6 separate regions of the Homo sapiens genome follow, and all the other regions are linked to region 2. Evidence: fine-mapped expression QTL. A gene starts in region 2. Each other region holds a variant in brackets. All regions are shown on one strand. Distances are from middle to middle. Region 1 has its middle 49 kb from the start of ZNF138. Region 2 holds the start of ERV3-1 (endogenous retrovirus group 3 member 1, envelope). Region 3 has its middle 16 kb from the start of SNORA22C. Region 4 has its middle 45 kb from the start of ZNF273. Region 5 overlaps LOC124901661 (a long non-coding RNA gene). Region 6 has its middle 15 kb from the start of SNORA15B-1.

The links. PIP is the estimated chance that this variant, and not a neighbour inherited with it, causes the effect.
Region 1: its variant is the best candidate, but not a certain one, in a credible set for the expression of ERV3-1 in whole blood (INTERVAL, PIP 0.63).
Region 3: its variant is the best candidate, but not a certain one, in a credible set for the expression of ERV3-1 in anterior cingulate cortex (GTEx, PIP 0.65).
Region 4: its variant is the best candidate, but not a certain one, in a credible set for the expression of ERV3-1 in whole blood (INTERVAL, PIP 0.71).
Region 5: its variant is the best candidate, but not a certain one, in a credible set for the expression of ERV3-1 in monocytes (BLUEPRINT, PIP 0.88).
Region 6: its variant is the best candidate, but not a certain one, in a credible set for the expression of ERV3-1 in whole blood (INTERVAL, PIP 0.83).

Annotation. Positions count from the first base shown.
Region 1 is chr7:64,742,946-64,747,037 of GRCh38, reverse strand. No RefSeq gene overlaps it. Among named protein-coding and RNA genes, the nearest start is that of ZNF138, 49 kb to the left of the region's middle. The variant G/A (reference allele first, on the strand shown) is at 1,634.
Region 2 is chr7:65,004,750-65,008,841 of GRCh38, reverse strand. It overlaps ERV3-1 (endogenous retrovirus group 3 member 1, envelope), which reads left to right and starts at 2,155. Exons shown (of 2, transcript NM_001007253.4): 1 at 2,155-2,301. It overlaps ERV3-1-ZNF117 (ERV3-1-ZNF117 readthrough), which reads left to right and starts at 2,096. Exons shown (of 4, transcript NM_001348050.2): 1 at 2,096-2,301. LOC105375330 (a long non-coding RNA gene) reads left to right here. Exons shown (of 6, transcript XR_927607.1): 6 at 131-168. RefSeq lists a silencer at 1,895-2,064 and an enhancer at 2,165-2,224.
Region 3 is chr7:65,048,307-65,052,398 of GRCh38, reverse strand. It overlaps the pseudogene CCT6P3. Among named protein-coding and RNA genes, the nearest start is that of SNORA22C, 16 kb to the left of the region's middle. The variant C/G (reference allele first, on the strand shown) is at 2,114.
Region 4 is chr7:64,856,370-64,860,461 of GRCh38, reverse strand. It overlaps a transcript of ZNF138 not described here. Among named protein-coding and RNA genes, the nearest start is that of ZNF273, 45 kb to the left of the region's middle. The variant A/C (reference allele first, on the strand shown) is at 2,145.
Region 5 is chr7:65,222,655-65,226,746 of GRCh38, reverse strand. The region is part of intron 1 of LOC124901661 (a long non-coding RNA gene); the gene reads left to right. It also overlaps the pseudogene INTS4P1. Among named protein-coding and RNA genes, the nearest start is that of ZNF92, 150 kb to the left of the region's middle. The variant A/G (reference allele first, on the strand shown) is at 2,358.
Region 6 is chr7:65,083,677-65,087,768 of GRCh38, reverse strand. It overlaps the pseudogene GTF2IP14. Among named protein-coding and RNA genes, the nearest start is that of SNORA15B-1, 15 kb to the right of the region's middle. The variant C/T (reference allele first, on the strand shown) is at 2,176.

The DNA of each region.
Region 1 (4,092 bases), 260 kb after region 2:
TTTTTCAAATTTTATTGTTTTCTACAGTTTGGATTAAATTCTAATTTTTCTGGCTACAAGTCTCCAAAATAATGTTTTTAACTTTTTGCTTTATATTGTTCTGTTTCCCCATTTTTCCTAATAAGAAATCACTAAAACCCAAGCTGTGCTTTCTTAAAGCCCTGTGAACTAAAGACTAGATGACTTAAACTTCAGAAGAGCAGCAACCTATTTATGCGTGCTTCTGTTGCATACTATTATGTTTCAGAAGGTGCTGCCTCTAAGCCCCCAAAACAGAGAGTGCTATAGGAAACAAATTGACCTCTTCCACTCCAGCGCTGCATTCAGTGCCCCATAACAATGACCCCCTCTCTGCAGGAAGTATCCAGAAGGATTATGACCCCCTCATCTCCCTCCAATTCTTGTGATAAATAAATACACAAGCAAGACAGAAATCATGCATGAATTGACAGTAGGGATTGTGGCAGTCCAGCTCTTACTAATAGAGGCCTCCAAAACAACTGTTTCAGTACTGACTGAGTGGTTCAGTTAAATATTAAAAAATAGTGCCCTGGCTGGGCATGGTGGCTCACACCTGTAATCCCAGCACTTCGGGAGACTGAGGCAGGTGGATCACCTGAGGTTGGGAGTTCGAGACCAGCCTCACCATCATGCAGAAACCCCATCTCTACTAAAAATACAAAATTAGCCAGGCGTGGTGGTGCATGCCTGTAGTCCCAGCTACTCGGGAGGCTGAGGCAGGAGAATCGCTTGATCCTGGGAGGCAGAGGTTGCAGTGAGCAGAGATCATACCATTGCACTCCAGCCTGGGCAACAAGAGTGAACCTCAGCACCCCCACACCCCCCCCCCCACAAAAAAAAACCAGTGCCCTTATACAAAGGCTGGAATGTAACAAAAGCCCACGAAGAGTTTTCCCTAGGCCTTTCCTGGGCCTTACAGCATGACAAAATAATGAAGGAATTCTTAACAGGACCTATGTAGAATTAAATGAGCTTTTTTGTGGGTCTGAAGAAACCCCCAGGCCTCCACAAACAAGTTTACTGGGGGTCTGAAGGAACTACCCTAACCTCCGTGATTCAGCAGGAGACAAGATAAGGGTAATCACCTCAGCACCTGGACCCATTTAGATTAAGTAAATTTACTGAGGTTCCAGAGGAAAGTCTTCAGGACTCAGACATTAGTTATATTAGTGTTAATTTTCCAATGCTTCTGTATTACAATAAATACTTGCTTTACTGAAAGTAGAAATAATCTAGAACAAAAAGTAACAACCATCTCTAAATTGTTAAATTTATGTGAATATTTTGGAGTTGATGTTTTGTGACCTCTTCCTTGACATCCTAGCAAAGATATTTCTGTAAAAGTATATTTCACAAATACACTTTCAAATACAAATTAGTACTATCCATGTTTTGGTTACTTTTGCTTTGCGCTTCCACCTCCATATTATTTTTGATAACAAAGCACAGCAACATGATTTTTCTTTTTTTTCTGAGATGGAGTCTCACCCTGTCGCCCAGACTGGAGTGCAGTGGTGCAATCTCAGCTCACTGCAACCTCTGCCTCCCAGGTTCAAACAATTCTCTTGCCTCAGCCTCCCAAGTAGCTGGGACTACAGGTGTCTGCCACCAC[G/A]CCTGGCTAATTTTTTATATTTTGATAGAGACAGGGTTTCATCATGTTGGCCAGGCTGGTCTTGAACTCCTGACCTTGTGATCCACCCACCTTAGCCTCCCAAAGTGCTGGAATTACAGGCGTGATCCACCGCAGCTGGCCTGCAACATGATTTTTCTAAAGCAGGCCTCATGAATTTCGCCTGGATGTTAACACATTAAAAGGAGGTGAATGCAATTAAAAGGTGTTTAATACATTCCACCAGAAAGGAGAGGCACAGCTGGCCATGCTGGGCCTCACAAAGGCTGTCTCATGCACAGATTGGAAAGCAGAGGTATCAGGGAACTGGGACTTTGTCTTTATGACCATGATGATTGTAAGCAACCAAGCAAGGCTGTCCCTTTGGACACAAAGTAAAATCTTGCATGTTGGGGTCTGTGGTTGGGAAGATGATAATATTTGCATGCTAATAAAAGCTGCCTGAAAAGGAACATGTAAACAACAGTGATTGCTTATCTGCCCCTGTGACTCAGCAGGCTTATGAAACAGTTATAAATAGCAGCTGTCAAATGGCCAACACAATCTAACAACATTTTCAATATAATTTATTACTAGTGGAAATCCTGAATTAATTTATTATTATTTTTGAGATAGAGTCTCGCTCTGTCACCCAGGCTGGAGTTCAGTGGCATGATCTCGGCTCTCTGCAACCTCCGCTTCCCGGGTTTAAGCAATTCTCCTCTCTCAGCCTCCTGAGGAGCTGGGACTACAGGCGCACACCACCACGCCCAGCTAATTTTTGTATTTTCAGTAGAGACAGGGTTTCACCATATTGGTCAGGCTAGTCTTGAACTCCTGACCTATGGTGATCCACCCACCTTGGCCTCCCAAAGTGCTAGGATTACAGGCATGAGCCACCACACCCGGCCCTGAATTCTTTAATTTCTGCAGTTTCCGTTACTTCTTAAGATGCTTTAAATGAATAAAATCTGCCTTAAATGTTGATACCTGATAACTTCTCTCTGGAGGATTTTGAATTGGCCAACTTAATCAAAACTCCAGCTCTTGCCATCTAAGTGCAATTAAATGGAATATTTAAGATTCCTAAGGGGTCAACTATTACACTTTCAACTTCTTTTTAACGATATATTATTTTCCAAAAATTCTTATGACCATTTGAATAGTTTAGCTTTTGCTCCTCTCTTGTGAGCAACAGGATTATATATATTTGGTAAAATGTAATACAGAAAACTTAAAAATTATACTGGACAACCATCAGTAAAATGTATATATCTGGTATAAACAACCTTTTTCCGCAAATTGAATTCTGCATTTTTCTCTTTTCTGATATATATGAGATGCACAAGTATGTTTTTCTCCTGTATGGGCATAAAGAGGTGATTGTCATTTGTATTATCTGCTAAAAGCTTGTGGCAGCTCATGGTATTATTGACCACATGTTCTAATGTCTTTTTGCAGATTTAAATATTATATTGTAGTGTCAATTTAACATTTAGATGTGGGTTAAATCTCTAGATATATTGTAATTAGATTGATTTTTTTTTTTTGAGACAGAGTCTCCCTCCATTGCCCAGGCTGGTGTGCAATGGGGTGATCTTGGCTCACTGCAACCTCCACCTCCAAAGTTCAAATGATTCTCCTGCCTCAGCCTCTCAAGTAGCTGCGATTACAGGCACCTGCCACCACACCCAGGTGTGTGTGTGTGTGTGTGTATTTTTAGTAGAGATGGGGTTTTGCCATGTTGGCCAGCCTGTTCTCAAACTCCTGACCTCAGGTGATCCACCCACCTTGGCCTTCCAAAGTGCTGGGATTATAGGTGTGAGCCACCATGCCTGGCGTAATTAAATTGATTTTTTTGTAATGGTGATTGTCCTGGTAAATCAATATAAAATAAAAATTATACACCTTTAAAAGATAGTTATTTACAATTGCTTAGAGTTTACCTGGTCAGCCGAGGCCTATCTTCTTCAAGACTTTGCTGAAATTGCACCTGCTCAGTTACAGTCTCTCTGTACAGTCAGAAAAATAATCCTGACTGAGAATGGCTAAGAAAAGAATGAAAAAATTTTGGCAGAGGAATCCTACATGTAAAGAAACAGTTGTGGAAAAGAAAATAATGTTCAGAGATGTGTTTTACTGCAGTTATTTTTTATTTTCATTTTATTTATTTATTTATTTTTTGAGACTGAGTCTTTCTCTGTCACTCAGGCTGGAGTGCAGTGGTGCTATCTTGGCTCACTGCAACCTCTACCTCCTGGGTTCAACCGATTCTCCTGCCTCAGCCTGCTGAGTAGCTTGGACTACAGATGCACGCCACTACGCCTGGCTAATTTTTGTATTTTTAGAGAAACAGGGTTTCACCATATTGGCCAGGCTAGTCTCGAAATCCTGACCTCACGACCCGCCTGCTTCTGTCTCCCAAAGTGTTGGGATTATAGGCATGAGCCACTGCGCCAGGC
Region 2 (4,092 bases):
TTATTCCCATTCCCCCAACAGATAAACCTCCCAATGGATTCAATGCATACACTTTTATTAAATCTCACTCTGTCACCCAGGCTGGAGTGCAGTGGCATGATCTTGGCTCACTGCAAGCTCCGCTTTACAGGTTCAAGCGATTCTCTTCAGCCTCCTGAGTAGCTGGGACTACAGGCATGCACCACCAGACCTGGCTAATTTTTTTGTATTTTTAGCAGAAATGGGGTTTCACCATGTTGGTCAGGCTGATCATGAACTCCTGACCTCAAATAACCCACCTGCCTCGGCCTCCCAAAGTGCTGGGATCACCTGCCCCAGCCTCCCAAAGTGCTGGGATCACCTGCCCACTCCCTTGGTGAGGAGCCCCCTAGGGCACCTCCACCTCCTAGAGCACAAATGTTGTTGAGATGAGCAGCTTGAGACATGGTATGGACCTATGCGGAGGTGTCCCTAGACAATGATGGCATCAGAGTGAGAGGCTGGATGAGGATGTGTCTGGGGGAGCTTCGAGGTGCTGTGATATGTAAGAGATCATTAATTACAGGATGCCACCCCAAGGAGAATATGCATGGACCAAAGATGAGGGGTCCCCAGGAGGGTAAACCAATAGTAATGCCCCCAGATTCCATTCCTAGCCAGGCTCCCTGCTAAGTGACAATTAGAAAAATTCCTCTTTACAGAAAACAGAGCATCAATTAGGTCCCCAACTACAGAGCCAGTCCTCTACCCTCCAGTGAAACTTCCAGTGGGCAAGAAAAGCTTGGGAAAGCCAGAAGGAATAGGAACCACAGCTCAGGCCGGGCCGAGGCTTCATAAATCAAAAGGACATTTTTTTTTTAAGAGATAAGGTCTCACTCCATCACCCAGGCTGGTGTGCAGTGACCCAATCATGCCTCACTGTAGCCTTGAACTCGTGAGCTCAAGTTATCCTCCCAGCTCAGCCTCCTGAGTAGCTGGGACCACAGGTGCACACCAACACGCCTTGCTAACTTTTATTTTTATTTTTGAGACACAGTCTCGCTCTGTCACCCAGGCTGGAGTGCAATGGTGCGTTCTTGGCTCACTGCAACCTCCACCTCCTGGGTTCAAGTGACCCTCCTGCCTCAGCCTCCCAAGTAGCTGGAATTACAGGTGCACGCCACCAGGCCCAGCTAATTTTTGTATTTTTATAGAGACAGGGTTTCACCATGTTGGCCAGGCTGGTCTTGAACTCCTGACCTCAGGTGATCCGCCCACCTCAGCCTCCCAAAGTGCTGAGATTACAGGCGTGAGCCACCGTACCCAGCCCATGGCTAATTTTTAAACTTTTTTGTAGAGATGGAGTCTCACTATGTTGCCCAGGCTGGTCTCAAGCTCCTGGCTTCAAGCAGTCCTCCCACCTCAGCCTCCCAAAGTGCTGGGATTACAGGCATGAGCCACCATGCCCAGCCGCAGAAGGGCAATTATTACACAGTGACAGTGGAAGGAACAGAGACACAGTCGGTGGATGGTGGGAAGATAAGAACATTCACTCTGAGGGCTTCTAGTAACGTTGGAGAAGTGAGCATCAGCTTAGCAGAAGGGAGGGAGGGAAGGAAGCACAGGAGGTTTGAGGAGAGAGAGAGAGGAAGTATGAAATCAGAGCTGCACTTCAATGTGGTGGCTATTGGCCATGTGTGGCTACAGGATAGCTGGAATATGGCTGGTCTGAACTGCGATGTGCTAGAAAGGTAAAATACAGGGTTAGATTTAAAGATTTAGTTCCAAGAATATATACACTACATTAATAATTACATATTGCTCCTATACTAAAATAATATTTTGGATATATTGGGTTATTAAATGGTTAGAATGAATTTCACCTGTTTCTTCTTTCTTCTTAACTACTAGAAAATTTAGAATTCACACATGGCTCACATTTTATTTCAGACGGTTGCCTTACAAGGCAAATGCCGTCTGGGGAGGGCCTGGGTCAGCTCAGGGAGGAAGCTCTGCCTGAAAAGGCTTAGGGTTCACTCTACATTCAGCCCAGCATCTGAGCACGTCTTCTGTCAATCAAGGCCTGAGAGGGTGGGGCCCTAAACATTATCCAATCAGGGACGCTGGGCTGGGACCCGTCCAATCAGGCACTCAGCTGGAGCAGACAGGACGGCTTCCGGGTTTGGTGGGGCCTTTGTCTCTGGCGGCAGCCGGAGCTTCTGGTGTAGTCTTCACTGCTCTGTGTCTTCTGCTCCTAGAGGCCCAGCTTCTGTGGCCTCGTTACCTGCAGGTATTGGGAGATCCACAGCTAAGACGCCAGGACCCACTGGAAGCCTAGAAATGGTGAGAGTGCCGGGTCCGACATCCCGAGAGAGGGGGCGGGGCTGGTTGGAACTGGTGGGAAGTGGCTGTGGCGGGACTCTGGCCTCCCCGCAGCTGGCTCCAAAATCCGCGGCCCCGAGTTCTCCTTGGCGCAGCTCGGCCCTCAGTCCCCTTCAGCCATAGGATGGCGGCCGGGCTGACAGCTCGGACCCCGGGCATCCTGTCTCCTCCCTGCGCAGTGACTGTGCCTTGTTCTGGAGTCCTCTGTGGGCAGCTCTGCCCCCACTGCCGCAGCTCTCCCCGATTGTGCAGGGACCACTGGACGGTCGTCAGGGGAGAATACTGACTCAGGATGCAGAGTTCATGAATGGGAAGAGCTTTGGTCTGCGGGGTTCCCAGTCCCCCTTTTTTTCTATTAAAAATTTGTGGAAGTCTCCGCAGAAATATTAAAGAATTTAATTAAAGAGTAATTCAAGAATTGTAGAGCACCAAGCTATGTTTTGTAGTTTGTGGTTTATGGAAGGGGCTTGAAGAAAACACTTTTATAAAGTGCATGATAAAGGAAAGCAAATTCAATAATTGGTTAGGTAAAGTTATGTAGTTTCTTAATTTGTACGATCAAGGTGGAAATTCCCTGGTCATGTAATGAGAGGTTAATTGGCAGTTTATAGTTGGTTAAGCCTGAATTTTATTTTCCCCCAATGTAATACTTTAGAAAAAAATCATTCGAGTTAGATTTTTTTGCAAGTAGCAACCCTAGGACTGGAGCCACCTCAGTCTAATTGCCTGCCACTTAATTATTTTCACACTCCACAGGGCACTGATTTTCCTCTGCATTTTTCACTTCTGTCTCAAGCAGGGTCTCAAGACTTCTCCCCATTTCCCATTCCTCCAGCCTAACTCTGGCTTGCAGTAAAATACTAAATTTCCAGTTCCTTCTGACATTCCCAAATGCCAATTTCCCCTCCCTAATTCACATTATCAACTATTTGTCCTTTAATGTACACTTTAGTGTACATTTTAGGTACCATATTTTAATTAATCATTTTTTGACAAAGCATTGGCTGGCATTTTAAAAAAGATTTGTTTTCTGTTTGTAAAGATTTCCCAAGAGAAGAAAGCAAAGAATAATCCCCTGACACTGTATTGTAAAAAATGTTCTGTGCCTCCTTTCCTTTTATTGCCTCTAGCCACAGAAACCTTATCAGAATATTTTTGGGTCAGGGTTTCCCTTTGGAAACTTTATAAGGTAATGTGTCCTCAGCCACCCTTCAGTTTTTTCCCTGGTTCTGGGTTTCAGTACTGTCTGGGGATAAATCAAGATATCCACTGTGGCTGTGTATGCTACAATGTCTAGTAAATTTCAGCTCCTGGCCTGGAATGAAACTTCGCATATCTGGGAATGGGAGACAGGACAGCCTGAAGTTGGAGTGTAGCCTCTCAAGGGAGCAGGTGGATGCCCTGAGGCTGAGAGGAGTCTCCTGGGGTACTCTTCCTTTGAAAAGCAAACCCTTAGAGAAGTTAAGATTGTCTTCAAGCAACCCGGGTTCCATTTCTCGAAGACACATTGCTGGTCAGCCAATCAGATGGTGGTAATGAGGGAAAAACAAATAATTACTGCCACCTGGATTCTCCAAGAATTATGAAAGAGAAAATAGTATCCCAAAAGACAAAAAAAAAAAAAAAAAAAAAATCAAACCTGGCCCCAGTGAGATGGTGCAGCAACTTGCAAAGTGAAATGCACCTTGGGGCACTCAATGGGGCCTAGTACAGTGTCTCTGGAGAGGGTGGTCACTGAGCACTTAAGTGAGC
Region 3 (4,092 bases), 44 kb before region 2:
ATTAAATTAATGACTATAAGAAAAAGAGATCATAATATACTGCCGATTATTACAAGAACCTGAGTATACATATACCATATATCATGATAAAGACTCTTTAGACCAAAAGTAAAGGTGAAAAGAGAAATGAAAACAGGGATAGATGATATAAGGCTTTTCCCTCAACTAATTTACTCTAACACTATCTTTGTAATACATGTGTTTAGAACAAAACAATGCCACAATGAGCATCTAAGTTAAAACCGTTATCAGAGAGGCAATTCCAGAATAAACAGATACAATATGCTCCTTGATGGAAAGACCTGCTAGTGAGAACTGACTCCTTCCCATATTCGTCTATAAATTTAGCACAATTCTAATCAAAATCTCAGTGGGATTTGTCTTAGAACTCATCAAAATTATTCTAAAATTCACCGGAAACAGTAAATTCATGACAATAGCAAAGAAAAATTTGGAAATGAGCATATTTGCCCTATCAGATATCAAACTTCTATAAAAAGCCACGGGGGAGGGGTGGTAATGGAATAAACACAGACCGACCTGTCACTGGAACAGAACTGAGAATCCAGAAAGAGGCCTTATGTATGCAGAAAAGCCTTGTGGCATTTGAAATATGAACAAGTCAATGAACTGAGAGAGGCAAAAGCCTATCCATTTAGGAAAAATTTAGATCCCTACCCTTACACTAGATACAAAAGGAAATTCCATACAAACTAAAAGAGCTCAGTGTGAAAAAAATTTTTTCATATAAAGTATATGAAAATATTTTAAAGATAATCTTGGGATGGTAGAGATTTTGCTAAACCAGAAAAAAAAAAAAACTATAAATATGTGAAAGATTTTCCAGTTGAATAATGAAGAATTTTTTTAAGTGAAAGATCTGACCACCTAAGTTAACACTTCTATGTAAAGACACCATAACACAAAATTAAAAGACAAATAACAAATGAAGAGAAAATGTGTAACACATATAACAAAAGATTAACCATTGTGACATCTAAAGAACTCCTATAAAGCAATAAGAAGAAAAGATAAACAACCCAGAAAGGGAAAAAATGGGCAAAGGTATGAACAGGCAATATCCAGAAGAAATGCAAAATTTTTGTCTGTACAAAAATTATGTTGTAGATTCATGTAACACCCAGTAAACTACATTCTAGGAGGTTAAAGAAGTCATGTTTTTCAGAACTAACAAATTACATATATTTACACAATATCAGAATGGGAAGTGCCTGTCTGAACTTGAATCTACAGACAAAAATTACCAAGAAAAATCATTAAAATTATCATAGACTTAAAAAAACCTTTGTACTAGCATTCGTCTAAATCGATGTGAAAAATTCTAAAATTTATCCAGGCAGGAGAAGAAACACAGTTAATAAAAACATGAAAACCTCATTATCAAACAAGGTGATTATAAATTAAAAAATAAATTTTTTAAATGTGAAACCATTAAATCTTGCTGATGCTTGGGGAAAATGCAAATCAAAACAATAACATGACAATTTTCATAAATCATATTGGCAAATATCTAAAAAATGAGAATGCCCAATTTGGCAAGGGCACAGGGCACCCAATATTCTCTTCCATTACTGGTGGAATTTTTAACAACATGGGAAAATAGTGGTAATATTTTCTTTTTTTTTGAGACAGTCTCACTCTGTCGCCCAGGCTGAAGTACAATGGCATGATCTCGGCTCACTGCAACTTCTGCCTCCCCAGTTCAAGCAATTCTCCTGCCTCAGCCTCCCAAGTAGCTGGGACCATCAGTGTGCATTACCATGCCCAGCTAATTTTTGTATTTTTAGTAGAGATGGGGTTTCACCACGTTGGCCAGGCTGTAGAGATGGGGTTTCACCACGTTGGCCAGGCTGGTCTCAAACTCCTGACCTCAGATGATCCACCTGCCTCAGCCTCCCAAAGTGCTGGGATTATGGCCACCGTGCCCTGCCGTGATATGTTAAGTGAGGAAAAGACAAATTAAACATACAGGAAGATCTAAACCATGTTCTAAAATAATAGTAACTATGTTTTATGAGTACCTTTATGCCAGACACCAGGACTATTTACATGTACTGGTACACTTCATATTCACAATAATCCTATGAGTTAA[C/G]GCTATTACTACCCTCATTTTATGGAGGAAGAAGCTGAGACAAGAGATCAAGTGACAGAGCCAAGATTTCAACTCAGGTTGACTCTAGAGTCCCAGATCTTAACCACTGGCACAATGTATAGAAATTAATCAAACTCTTTAAACACAGTGGAATTGAGTATACTGTCTACTTTAATTCCCGATTTTGTCATATATATTCTACTATTTTACTTCTCAAATACAACGAGTTTTTAAAAGGATCGGTAATCACAAGACAGCCAACAGTGTCCCTGAAATTCCCCTAGAGATGCTAACTACAAAATAAAACTTATGAATCATAATTCAATAGCTTTAAATATTGTAGTACAAGAACATTTTTCTAAATGAAATTTTATGTGCATCTATAACATAAGAAACAGATTAGGCTGGGTGTGGTGGCTTGCACCTGTAATCCCAGCACTTTGGGAGGCTGAGGAGGGCAGATTACGAGGTCAGGAGGTCGACACCAGCCTGGCCAACATGGTGAAACCCCATCTCTACTAAAAATACAAAAATTAGCAGGGTTTGGTGGCAGGTGCCTGTAATCCCAGCTACTCGGGAGCCTGAGGCAGGAGAATCACTTGAAGCTGGAAGGCAGAGGTTGCAGTGAGCTGAGATCCTGCCACTGCACTCCAGCCTGGGTTAAAGAGTGAAACTCCATCTCAAAAAACAAACAAAAAAAGAATAAAGCAGTATTTTATTCTATCAATGTATTTCAAAGCTCAAACGTGGCCGGGTGTGGTGGCTCATGCCGGTAATTCCAGCACTTTGGGAGGCCAAGGCGGGGGGTGGATCATTTGAGGTCAGGAGTTCGAGACGAGCCTGACCAACATGGTGAAACCCCATCTCTAGTAAAAACATACACACAAAAAAAAGCCAGGCATGGTGGCACGTGCCTGTAGTTCCAGCTACTCAGGAGGCTGAAGCAGGAAAATCACTTGAAGCTGGGAGGTGGAGGTTGCATTGAGCCGAGATGGCACCACTGCATGCATTCCAGCCTGGGTGACAGAGTGAGACTGCATCTCCAAAAAAAAAAAAAAAAAAAAAAAAAAGCTCAAATGTATAACATGTATAATGAGAACAATAAAATTCTTCTGACAAACACCAACTTTAAATTATGGATGATTGGGCAGTCTTATGTCAAATTTGTTTTGATGGCATGGTATCAAGAAAAACCGGATTCACAAAGATGAATAGATGATAAAGCATGTTTTACAAATGATAATGTTTTGTGTGTGTTTTTTAAATAGTACATTAACGCTATCTAAGAATTTAATTACACCTATCCAGAAGTTTTAAAAGTAAAACATTTCTAAATTAATTATGTAATAGTGTTAAGGAATGAATACTTGGTAGTCGTAAACATTTTGGTAAAAAATAAAAACTTTACAATATGTACTAATCCTGATATATGCATTAGGCAGTCATGTTATTGCATAATGCAACAGTTCTAATAGTACTGAATGTGCTTATATAATGTTATATGAACAAACAAGCACTAGCCTAAAATTTCAAAATATCAACATAAAGATACAGTCTTACTAATCAATAACATTTTTATCCTTTCTAACTCTGAGGAAAAAAAAGGAAAGAAAAAATTTTAATTAAAAAATAAAATGGCATTTTAAAAGTTTCATTTCTATATACAAAGTGAGACACTCTATTCCAAGGATTGTTGTCCTGGGTGTAAGCATTATAGATAATTTACATTTTCTTCCTTTTGCTTATTTTCTCTCAAATATTCTAAATGCACTTTTTTGTGTGTGCTTTTTTACTTTTTATTTTATTTTATTTTATTTTTGAGATGGAGTTTCACTCTTGTTGCCCAGGCTGGAGTGCAATGGCGTGATCTTGGCTCACTGCAACCTCCGCCTCCTGGGTTCAAGCAACTCTCCTGCCTCAGCCTCCCGAGTAGCTGAGATTACAGGCATGCACCACCATGCCCGGCTAATTTTGTATTT
Region 4 (4,092 bases), 150 kb after region 2:
GTAAAAACGTAACAGAGGCTGGGGAAGAAGTGGTTGAAGAAAGAAAAAATGTTGATGGAAGTGTACCACGTTTCACTTAGGAGAAATAAGATTTAGTGATTAATTGCACAGAATATTGACTATAATAAATAATAATGCAGTGTATATTTCAAAATTGGTATAAAAATATTTTAAATGTTTTTGCCACAAAAGTATAATAAGTATGTGAGGTGCTGAATTTGTTACTTAGCTTGATTTAAACATTTTACAGCATAAACATAAAAATATGACAGTGTACCCAACAAATACATACTTAGGATGTTATAATTGTATAATTATATTATATTGAGACAGAGTCTTGCTCTGTCACCAGGCTGAAGTGCAGTGGAATGATTTTGGCTCACTGCAACCTCCGCCTCCCGAGTTCAAGCAATTCCCCTGTCTCAGCTTCCTGAGTAGCTGGGATCATAGGTGCGTGCCACCATGCCTGGCTAATTTTTGTATTTTTAGTAGAGATGGGGTTTCACCATGTTGGTCAGGCTGGTCTCAAACTCTTGACCTCGTAATCCACCCACCTTGGCCTGCCAAAGTGCTGGGATTACAGGCGTGAGCCACCGTGCACAGCCAATAATCACTATTTTTATACAGAAAATACAGAGTTTTTTAAAGAGAGAAGAGATTAATTATAGAAGACAGAGACAAGTATAATTTATTGTGATTGGAACTAAATGCTATCAGAAGATTTACTATGTATGTGAAATTCTTTGACAAACTTCATGAACTTCAACTGGCCACAGGAAATCTCATTGTGCTCCTCTTTCTTTTTAAAGACAGAATCAACTTTACTACATTGCAATAATTTTTCTTAGGGTAAAAGTTGGGATTCACAATTATCTCTGGATTAATGGTGAATGTATTTGAAAAATTCTCTGATAGTCCTGACTAATCTTAGTAGGTCTAGTTTGGTTCTTATTGAATTGGATCACCTCATAGTCCCTTAATAAGCCAACTTTAAGAGAAATATACTTTCTGTTTTTTGAGAATTGTTTGAGTCACTGCCTGATGCAAGTAACAGACATAGACATGAACAGGTTACAAAAGATAAATAATGTCCTTAATGTACCTAAAAAAACTTTTTTAAACTGAATCTCTTAGGACTCATCCCATGTAGATGAGTCCAAAAAACACAATAATAACTAATAAAATACAATTTTCTGCAATGGAACATATCTGAGTATCACTAAAAATGACAAAGTTGTCCAGGCGTCGTGGCTCATGCCTGTAATCCCAGCACTTTGGGAGGCTGAGGTGGGTGGTTCACAAGGTCAGGAATTCAAGACCAGCCTGGCCAACATGGTGAAACACCATCTCTACTAAAAATACAAAAATTAGCCAGGTGTGGTGGTGTGTGCCTGTAATCCAGGCTACTTGGGAGGCTGAGACAGAAGAATCATTTGAACCCAGGAGGTGGAGGTGGCAGTGAACTGAGATCACATCACTGCACTAGAAATAAAAAAGAAGATATAAAAAAATGAAAGAGAAAGAAGAAAGCCACAATAGCCAAGATATGGAATCAACCTAAATGTTCATCAACAGTTGAATGAATAAAGAAAATGTGGTATATTTACACAATGGAATGCTATTCAGCCCTTAAAAAGAAGAAAGCCTTGTTATTTGCAAAAAGCTTATTGAACCTGAAGGACATTATGCTAAGTAAAATAAGCCAGCATTGAAAAAAATTTTTAAAAAGATCTCATTTCTATGCAGAGTGTAAAAGAAAATTCAAACTAATAGAAGCAGAGAGTAGAATAATGATTGCCTGCGACAGGGGGTGAAAAAGATTTTGGCCAAACATAATGGGTCTTCCCTACATCTATTACCTTAACAAATGTTATTCTCCTTGTAGTTTTGATTCACTGGGGAACTGAATCATATCCTGAAGACTCAAAACTGAAGGAATAATATATTTGTTAAAGCAATGCAGATTGTATACTGACATTTCAGAGGCTTAGCAAAATAATATATTTTCTTCTCACATTATCCCTTATGGTTTTTTCCTTGATAAAAAGACTTCCCCATGATTTTTTAGTAATCATGTCTTCTTTCATCTTCTATCTGCATCCTCCTCTTTCTTCTGTGAATAAATTAACAAAGAGATGTAGAAA[A/C]GACACATTTGCTTTTTATCCACACATCACTTCCACTCACTATTAGTCAATGTAAGTAGAGCTGAGAATAGCAGTTTTCTGGCAGGACACTTCTCAGCAATAAATAAAACCCTGAAAGAAAAGTGTAGATTTTTCATGAAAAGCTAATGTATTTTAAGCAAAACAAGCATATTCATCAGAAATAAAATGCTTGTGGCAAAATATAGATTCATTTCATTGATTTCTATGGAGCTCGGGTAATATTTGACCAAAAGCTAGGCAATATGCACAGAAAAAGGAATATTTTTTGAAATAAGAATATTGTGAAGTTGTTCTGTCAAAAGAAGTAAAAATATTATGATCTCATACTAATAGTCTCATCTATAGTTCTACAATATCAAACGCTTTTTATTAAAATTTGTATTTTATATAGGTATCCAATTTATATCACCCTCCTTTGCTATTTCAATGCTGTCTCCACTTTATATCAGTGGGAAACAGGCCACCTGGTCCCAGGAAAGCATGTGGTGCTATTGCGACTTTAACGATGATGATGAAAAGCACTTGTTTGGGTGGTACTGATGTGCCACTGTTATTTTGCCCAAAGCACTGTTTTTTTTTAATTCTTCTCTAAATTTACTGATAAAATAAAATTCTTTTTTTTTTTTTTTTTTTTTTTAAATTTATTTTTTTATTGATAATTCTTGGTTGTTTCTCACAGAGGGGGATTTGGCAGGGTCATGGGACAATAGTGGAGGGAAGGTCAGCAGATAAACAAGTGAACAAAGGTCTCTGGTTTTCCTAGGCAGAGGACCCTGCGGCCTTCCGCAGTGTTTGTGTCCCTGATTACTTGAGATTAGGGATTGGTGATGACTCTTAACGAGCATGGTGCCTTCAAGCATCTGTTTAACAAAGCACATCTTGCACCGCCCTTAATCCATTTAACCCTGAGTGGACACAGCACATGTTTCAGAGAGCACAGGGTTGGGGGTAAGGTCACAGATCAACAGGATCCCAAGGCAGAAGAATTTTTCTTAGTGCAGAACAAAATGAAAAGTCTCCCATGTCTACTTCTTTCTACACAGACACAGCAACCATCCGATTTCTCAATCTTTTCCCCACCTTTCCCCCTTTTCTATTCCACAAAACCGCCATTGTCATCATGGCCCGTTCTCAATGAGCTGTTGGGCACACCTCCCAGACGGGGTGGTGGCTGGGCAGAGGGGCTCCTCACTTCCCAGTAGGGGCGGCCGGGCAGAGGCGCCCCTCACCTCCCGGACGGGGCAGCTGGCCGGGCGGGGGGGCTGACCCCCCCCCACCTCCCTCCCAGACGGGGCAGCTGGCCGGGCAGAGGGGCTCCTCACTTCCCAGTAGGGGCGGCCGGGCAGAGGTGCCCCTCACCTCCCGGACGGGCAGCTGGCCGGGCAGGGGGCTGACCCCCCCACCTCCCTCCCAGACTGGGCGGCTGGCCGGGCAAAGGGGCTCCTCACTTCCCAGTAGGGGCGGCCGGGCAGAGGCGCCCCTCACCTCCCAGACGGGGCAGCTGGCCGGGCGGAGGGCTGACCCCCCCACCTCCCTCCCGGACAGGGCGGCTGGCTGGGCGGGGGGCTGACCCCCCCACCTCCCTCCCGGACGGGGCGGCTGGCCGGGCAGAGGGGCTCCTCACTTCCCAGTAGGGGCGGCCGGGCAGAGGCGCCCCTCACCTCCCAGACGGGGCGGCTGGCCGGGCGGAGGGCTGACCCCCCCACCTCCCTCCGGACGGGGCAGCTGGCCAGGCTGAGGGGCTCCTCACTTCCCAGTAGGGGTGGCCGGGCAGAGGCGCCCCTCACCTCCCGGACGGGGCGGCTGGCCGGGCGGGGGGCTGACCCCCGACCTCCCTCCCGGATGGGGCGGCTGGCCGGGCAGGGGCTGACCCCCCCACCTCCCTCCCGGACGGGGTGGCTGCCGGGCAGAGACGCTCCTCACTTCC
Region 5 (4,092 bases), 220 kb before region 2:
ATGTATTTATATATTAATATATATGATATGTATTTATATAATATATAAATATATATGTATTTATATAATATATAAATATACAATATGTATATAATATAGAAATACAATATACAATATGTATATACTATATAAATATAATATACAATATGTATATATTATAGAAATATATACAATATGTATTTATGTTATATAATATATATGTATTTATGTTATATAATATATATGTATTTGTTATATAAATGTAATATATATGTATTTATATGTTATATAAATATAATATATAATATGTATTTATGTTATATAAATATAATATATAATATGTATTTATATGTCATATAAATATAATATATATGTATTTATGTTATATAAATATAAGTATTTATATAATATATAAATATAATATATATGTATTTATATAATAAATATAATATATAATATATAATATGTATTTATATAATATACAAATATAATATGTGAATATAATATATGAATATAATATATAAATATAATATATAAATATAATATATTTATATAATATATATAAAAATATATATTACATATTATATATATTTATATATAATTGAAAAAAAGTTGGTATAGATGTGATGAAAAGGAACACTTTTCCACTGCTGATGTGAATGTTAACTGGTGCAATAAATATGGAGAACAGCATGGCGATTCCTTAAAGAACTAAAAGTTGGACTACCATTTGATCCAGCAATCTCAGTACTGGGTATCTACACAGAGGAAAATAAGTCATTATATGAAAAAGACACTTGCACACGCATGTTTATAACAGCGCAATTTGCAATAGTAAAAATATGGAAACAGCCTAAATGCCCATCAACCGACTGGATAAAGAAAATAGGGTATATGTATATATACTATGGAATACTACCCAGCCATGAAAAGGAAGAAAACGATGGCACTCACAGCAATCTAGATAAAGTTGGAGATCATTATGCTAAGTGAAGTAACTCAGGAATGGAAAACCAAGCGTTGTATGTTCTCACTTTTTAGTGGGGGCTAAACTAGAGGATGTAAAGGCATAAGAATTATGTAACATAATGGACTCTGGAAACTTGGGGAAAGGGCGGGGGGTGGTGAGGGATAAAAGACTACACATTGGGTACAGCATACACTGCTGGGGAGATGATGCACCAAAATCTCACAAATCACCACAAAAGAACTTATTCATGTAACCAAACACCACCTCTTTTGAAATAATAATGATAAAAACAAAAAACACAAACAACTCCCTAAGTTTAAGTTTATATGTTTTGGCCAATTTTTTTTTTTTTTCCCAGAAAGGATCTCCCTCTGTCACCCAGGATGGAGTGTAGTAGCTTGATCATGGCTTGCTGCAGCCTCAGCCTTCCGGGCTCAGGCAATTCTCCTTCCTCAGCCTCCTGAATAGTTGGTATTACAGGTGCAGGCCACCATGCCCAAATAATTTTTGTATTATGTGTAGACATATGGTTTTGCCATGTTGCTCAGGCTGGTCTCATATTCCTGGATTTAAACAGTCTTTATGTCTTGGCTTTTTAAAGTGCTAGGATTGCAAGCATGAGCTACCATGCATGACTAGAATCTTATTTTTACATGATATAGAAAAGTTAAATATATTTAGATCTGTTAGTTAACAGAAAATTTGAGAAAATATTTTTATTAAAATACAAAATGGTTTTTATCTAAAAATAATGGTACAAAACATTCAAAATTACTTCCTGGAAATTTCACTAAAAATTTGGTTGCTCAGAGTTAATGTAATTAATATGTATATTTAAAACTACTAGATTTAAGGAATAACAATTTGGTATAGAGAGTGTATAAACAAAAACAAAGCATGCTTTCATGAAGAAAGTTAGAAACATTTTGTCTAGTTTGAAATTACTTAAAGGTTGTCTCAAATTGAAAAAATAAGATGAATGTAGATTAAAATATTAGAAGTTAAAAATATTATAAAATATGTACAGAAATCTAGAGTGGACAAAAATAATATATTTGATGGATTTATTTTTAAAGTTTCACCAAAATTAACTTTAGTATTGATAATATACTAATACAAAAGTAAAAGCTGATTTTCTTTTGAACAAAATTTTATGTATTATTATTAATATGACACAGTAATGTATTTTTGTTTACCTTTTGAATAAATTTTAAAAGAGAGGTAGAATTTTTCTCATACTGCCTTTTTTCAGATTTTTGATTGAAAAACTTAATCTCCTGCATCAAACAGTAAAATGTTTTGTTTTTAAAAATCTTTTAATCATCACTTTGGCTAAATGAATGACTATTATTTTACGGTGACCTGTGATCCTATTTTGGTCAAGTATTTTAACCCTCTGACATATTTG[A/G]CAGTCTTTCTAAAATCAAATTTCAGCTTAAAAATTGTCTTTTTGTGGCCGGGCATGGTGGCTGACACCTGTAATCCCAGCACTTTGGAAGGCCGAGATGGGTGGATCTCCTGAGGTCAGGAGTTTGAGACCAGCCTGGGCAACATGGTAAAACCCCATCTCTACTAAAAATACAAAAAATTAGCTGGTCATGGTGACAAACACCTGTAATCCCAGCTACTCAGGAGGCTAGGGCAGGAAAATTACTTGAAACTAGGAGGCAGAGGTTGTAGTGACCCAAGATCACGCCACTGCACTCCAGCCTCGGCAACAAGAGTGAAATTGTTTAAAAAAGACTTTTTTTTTTTTTTTGACAAAGTCTTGCTCTGTTGCCCAGGCCGGAGTACAGTGGCCTGATCTCAGCTCACTGCAGCCTCCACCTCCTGGGTTCAAGAGATTCTCCTGCCTCAGCCTCCCAAGTAGTTGGGATTACAGACGTGTGCCACCATGACCGGCTAATTTTTGTACTTTTAGTAGAGATGGCGTTTCACCATGTTGGCCAGGCCAGTCTCGAACTTCTGACCTCGAGTGATCCGCTGGCCTCGGCCTCCCCAAGTACTGGGATTACAGGCATGAGCCACGATGCCCAACCTTAAAATTATTGGTTTTTGACCCCTAACTTTTAGATGCTACAGAGAGCCAATGCAACATCCAAGAGAGTGATAAACAGGATTATTTGATATGTTAAATTGCATGGGAAGCACGGTCAAATTAAAAATGATGTTTGGGTCAGGCGCGGTGGCTCACACCTGTAATCCTAGCACTTTGGGAGGCTGAGGCAGGTGGATCACAAGGTCAGGAGTTCGTGACCAGCCTGGCCAACATGATGAAACCCCGTCTCTATCAAAGATACAAAAAATTACCTGGACATGGTGGCACATGCCTGTAAATCCCAGCTACTTGGGAGGCTGAGCCAGGAGAATCACTTGAACCCAGGAGGTGGAGGTTGCAGTGAGCCGAGAGCATGCCATTGCACTCCAGCCTGGGCGATAGGGTGAGACTCGATCTCAAAAAAAAAAAAAATGATGTTTGACCTCCTTCAACTTATATTTTAATGAATATGTTATTAATATTTATTCCAAAATTTTATAGAATTTCTAAAAATCTAATATATATCTCTTTATATGCTATTAGTCATAATTATGTTTATTATGAACAAATATAGGCAACAGATATAATCAATTTTTTATTTGTTTTTTCATAACCATTTAAGTAATTTTCACAGTTAATGGTTTAATTCTTATTTAGTTTCTAAAAACCTCAAAAGCACACAAAATCCCAGAGTATTGTGTCTTTAGGAGGTTCATGAAAAGATGGAAAGTGACCAGACAAGTTGAGTCCTGTTTCTGATAATTTTAGGATCATATTGTTTGAACTGGGTAAGGATCATGAGCATTCCCATGAAAAGACGGATTCATAAAACTGTGAGCCCAGGCAAGACAAAAATTAATTGAATATCAGAAAAATACTCTGCCACATTTTTACGCTAAATCAGCAAGTACTGAAATTTTTTAAATGTGCTCTTTAAATAAACTCTGTGGTCCAAGTAAAATTACCTATGAGAACCACTCAGTTATCAGTGCTATGCACATAAATTGGAGAAAAAGTCCTGGTATGTAAGACGACATAATTTTTTTTTTTTGGTCTTTTTTTTTTTTGACACAGAGTCTCACGAGTCTCACTTTGTCACCAGGCT
Region 6 (4,092 bases), 79 kb before region 2:
TCCATTTCTCTGAAAACTGAGCAAAAGTTGATTCTCAATAATATGTCCCTATGTCAGAGCAGCACTAATATATAATGACTTATTTCCTATATTTTACATACTAACAGTCCATATCATTTTACTGCTTTCGAAAACATTTTTCCCTTTTTTGGTGGTTCTTAGAATTAGTTTAATAGGAGACTACAAGAGAAGTTTTAAAGTTTAATGCCTCTTTTTAGCCTTTAATTTCTGAAAAGCAGGAGGGCAGAAAAGATCAATCAAATTAAACACGACAACAGGGAGGCCACAATGAGGAGGTCTCCAGAGGCCTTTTCGCAAACTTCCTAAAACATGTCTCAGCTGTGTGGAAATAAGGCTTTACAGCAGCTGGGTGCAGTGGTGCAGGCCTGTAATCCTAGCACTTTGAGAGCAGAGGTGGGCAGATCACTTCGAGCTCCGGGCAACAAAGCAAAATCCCCCCTCCCCTCCCCAACCCCCTGCCTCCGCCCCCGTCTATACCAAAAATACAAAACTTAGCCAGACATGGTGGCAGGTGCCTGTAGTCCCAGCTACTCAGGAGGTTGAGGCAGGAGAATCACTTGAACCCAGGAGGCGGACGTTTCAGTGAGCCGAGGCCGTGCCACTGCCAGCCTGGGTGACAGAGCAAGACTCTGTCTCAAAAAAGAAAAAAAAAAAAAAAAAAGATTAAGTAAGAGGGACACCAGACCTTAAAAATACAAGTTTAAGAGGGACCCTGACTCAGCGTGGTGGCTCATGCCTGGGACTTTGGGAGGCCGAGGCAGGCGGATCACGAAGTCAAGAGATCTAGACCATCCTGGCCAACATGGTGAAACCCTATCTCTACTAAAAATACAAAAAATTAGCTGAGAGTGGTAGGTGCGCACCTGTAGTCCCAGCTACTCAGGAGGCTGAGGCAGGAGAATTGCGTGAACCCAGCAGGCGGAGGTTGCAGTGAGCTGAGGTTGGGCCACTGCACTCCAGCCTGGGCAACAGAGCAAGACTCTATTGAGGCAAGGTTTCTCATTCTCAGGTCCGAGGGGTTCAATAACTGGGCCCTTAGGGAGGTGTGAGCCCCCTGAAACGATGCAAGGTTTTGTGTGGAGAGTGTGCACATGCGTTTCCGGGAAAACAGCCCACAGCTCTCATTCTCAGCAGGCTCCACACTCAAAAAAGGTTAGACTCTTGCTACAGAGCTGTGGGAGCAGCTAGGTGAGGGGCCTGCCAAGGGCACTCTGGGGACTACCTGGGCAGTCTTGAGCCCACCTGGGCAGTCCTGAGCCCACTGTCCCTTAGGTAGGCTGTGCTGCTTGGTATTTGCAGAGCTGAGGGGGTGGGGCATGTGGGACTGTGAAATCGCCTTGAGATGACCCACAGCACTCAGCTGGGAAGTGAGGGGTGTGTATCCTGCAGCATCCTCCATTCCTAGGGCCATGGGGCCAGGAGAACTGGCCCTTGCAGCAAGTGAAAAGCCTAACATTGACTCCCTCCCTGGCCATGTAGACAATGAACCAAAGGCACCCATATCAAGTAAATGCCTTGGTCTCTGTGACCGAGGTGACCAGTAGGCATTCCCAGGTGCAGGGAAGGTCCTGACACCAAGATATGCACCTGGTCACCTGAGGAAAGAGAAAGGACTATCCAAGGGGTTGGGGCTGAGCTGGGTGTGGAGTGGTCCTTGTGGGTCATGGTGAGTGGGAGGGGGAGCAGCATGAGCCAGGCCTCGGGGCAGGAGGACAACCAGGAGACGGCCTGGAAAAAGTGCTGGACCCACGAGGGTTCAAGGCTGGCCAGAGAGGGAGATGGGATAGGCTGGGAAGTCCTGAGGTCTGAAGATTGGCCCTGGCAGGCAGAAACCAGGAAAGGTGGGCAGTTACCTGCACCCTGGGGGCCAGATGCATCCTTAGCCTAGAGCAGGTGCCAAGATTTCTGGCTCTGGGTGTGACCTAAGTCTGGGGAAAAGCCCCAACCCCCACCAGGACCACCTGCCCCCCAAACTACTTCAGATGCTGAGCCCAAGCCAGGAGCAGGAAGCTGGACTGATGCCTAGGGTAATCCCGACAAAGTCCCTGTCTCCCCCCAGCTATGGGGCTGAAGGGGAATTACAGCCCAAACCCCAGATGCTGGCTCTCAAACTAACACTGAGCCCTCAGTGCCCAAAGGGAGACTCAATCAGCA[C/T]ACTTTCCAGATGGGGAAACGGGCTCAGAGAGGTGCAAGAGCCTTGCCCAGTGCCCCAGACCAGGACTCTAGGCCCAGAGTGTTCTTTTGTCACTGTGTCCAGAGGGTAGCAGCTGCTCTGATATAGCCACCTGAGCCTGGCAACTTTCTCCAGCTTTGGAAGCCCAGGAGCATGGCCCGTGCCCACAGATGCACCTGGCATGAGGCGCACCCAGAGGGACAGAGGCAGATGAGTTTCGCCTCCTCCACTGGATTGTGAAGGCCTCCAAGGAGACAAGGATCTGCTTGAGAAGGCAGCAGATAGTCAGCAACCTGGGGTGGTTTAACTCTGGATGGATCTGCAGTGCCTGGATGGGACCTGGCTCAGACAGAGCTCAGTTCTGCAGGTCACTGAGGCATGGAAAGGTCACAGCTACCAAGTGTAGGAGTCTGGATTCAAAGCCAACAGCGTGACTCCAAAATCCCTGCCCTAGCCCCTGGACCACCCACCTCTCGGAGTCACCCTTGCAAGCTCATCAGATGTTCAGGCCAGCAGCACAACCAGCCAGGGCCAGGGAAACTTGGGGAGCCTCATTCCAACATAATCCTTGCACCCTTGCCCCTCACCATCTTTCTTCCTGCGTTAACCTCACCCCCTACACAGAGCCTGGGCCACTTAACTTGGCATCAAACAGATGCCTCAATAAATCAGAGTCTGATCTTCTCGAAAAAAAAAAAAAAGACTTAACAGATATACAGTTGCAAGTTAGAATGTTAAAGAACATAAACATACAACAACTTAATGTACATATAAATTCAATATGTAGCCAATCATTGTGACTATGACACAACAGAATATTAACATACTATTTTCAAAATGTATACAAGCTTAATGATCTATTTATATTCAAAATATGAATCATCAACATAATTTGCCATTAATATCTCATTCAGTCCCTTCACAGGACACATGATCCACTGGGAGTTAACACAATAGCAGCTGGCAGGCAGTGACACACAGCAAAAACGAAAACCAACAGGTGAAATAGTTCTGAAATAAAGAAAGTTTTAAAGCTAAGAGAAACCATTGAATTACTAAGTCATTAGCACTAATTTTGAGCCAACTAATTAATATGAGATGAAACAACGTCCTATGCTTTGGTAAATTCAAACCATGTTTAAACAATGGCTATAAAGTGACTTTCAAAAAGCTCCTGGCTTTACAAAGGTGAGATTATAACATAGTAATACATGCTAAAGCATTTCCCCCTGCAGATGAGCATGTTGTAACTTTCATCAGCCACATTGAGAGTCCAGAAGATGAGGGAAAAGGTTGTGGATTTCACTGAGAACTTACCAGAGTTGAACTCCCTCACTTTCCATTGCCCATCATTGGCAGGTTCCGGAACTGCCCATCATTGGCAGGCTCCGGAACAGGCTGTGTGTCACTGCCTGCCAGCTGTGGTAGTTCGTTGGTCTTTGGTCTCTTAGAAGGTGGAGAATCATCATCATGTTGAAAAAGAAAATGGTCATTAATGAAGGAACAATCCTAGGTTACAGCCACCTCCTGGTCAATTCCCAACATTCAAAAGGTGAGCAGCTTTAAAGCTATTTTGAATATTAATAATTATTCCTGTACTATGATCTTTAGCATGCCTTTTTCTAGTTACATTTGAAATTTTATTCTTTTGGGATGTGCTCAAGTGAATACTGCTTTATCCTCTGTCTTGCTTCATTACTTTTTAGTTTGCTTCATTTGAATCATCATTATAAATCTTCCCTTGCCCTCAAGTAACTCTGAAATTGCTGCCAATAACTATATTGTTTTAAGGCTTTTCAGAAAAAACTTTCAACAAAGACAGTCACCTGAAGTTATACAAATATAGAAGAAAGGGAATATAATTAAGCTTAGATTGGAAAAAATATTTAAGCTTATAC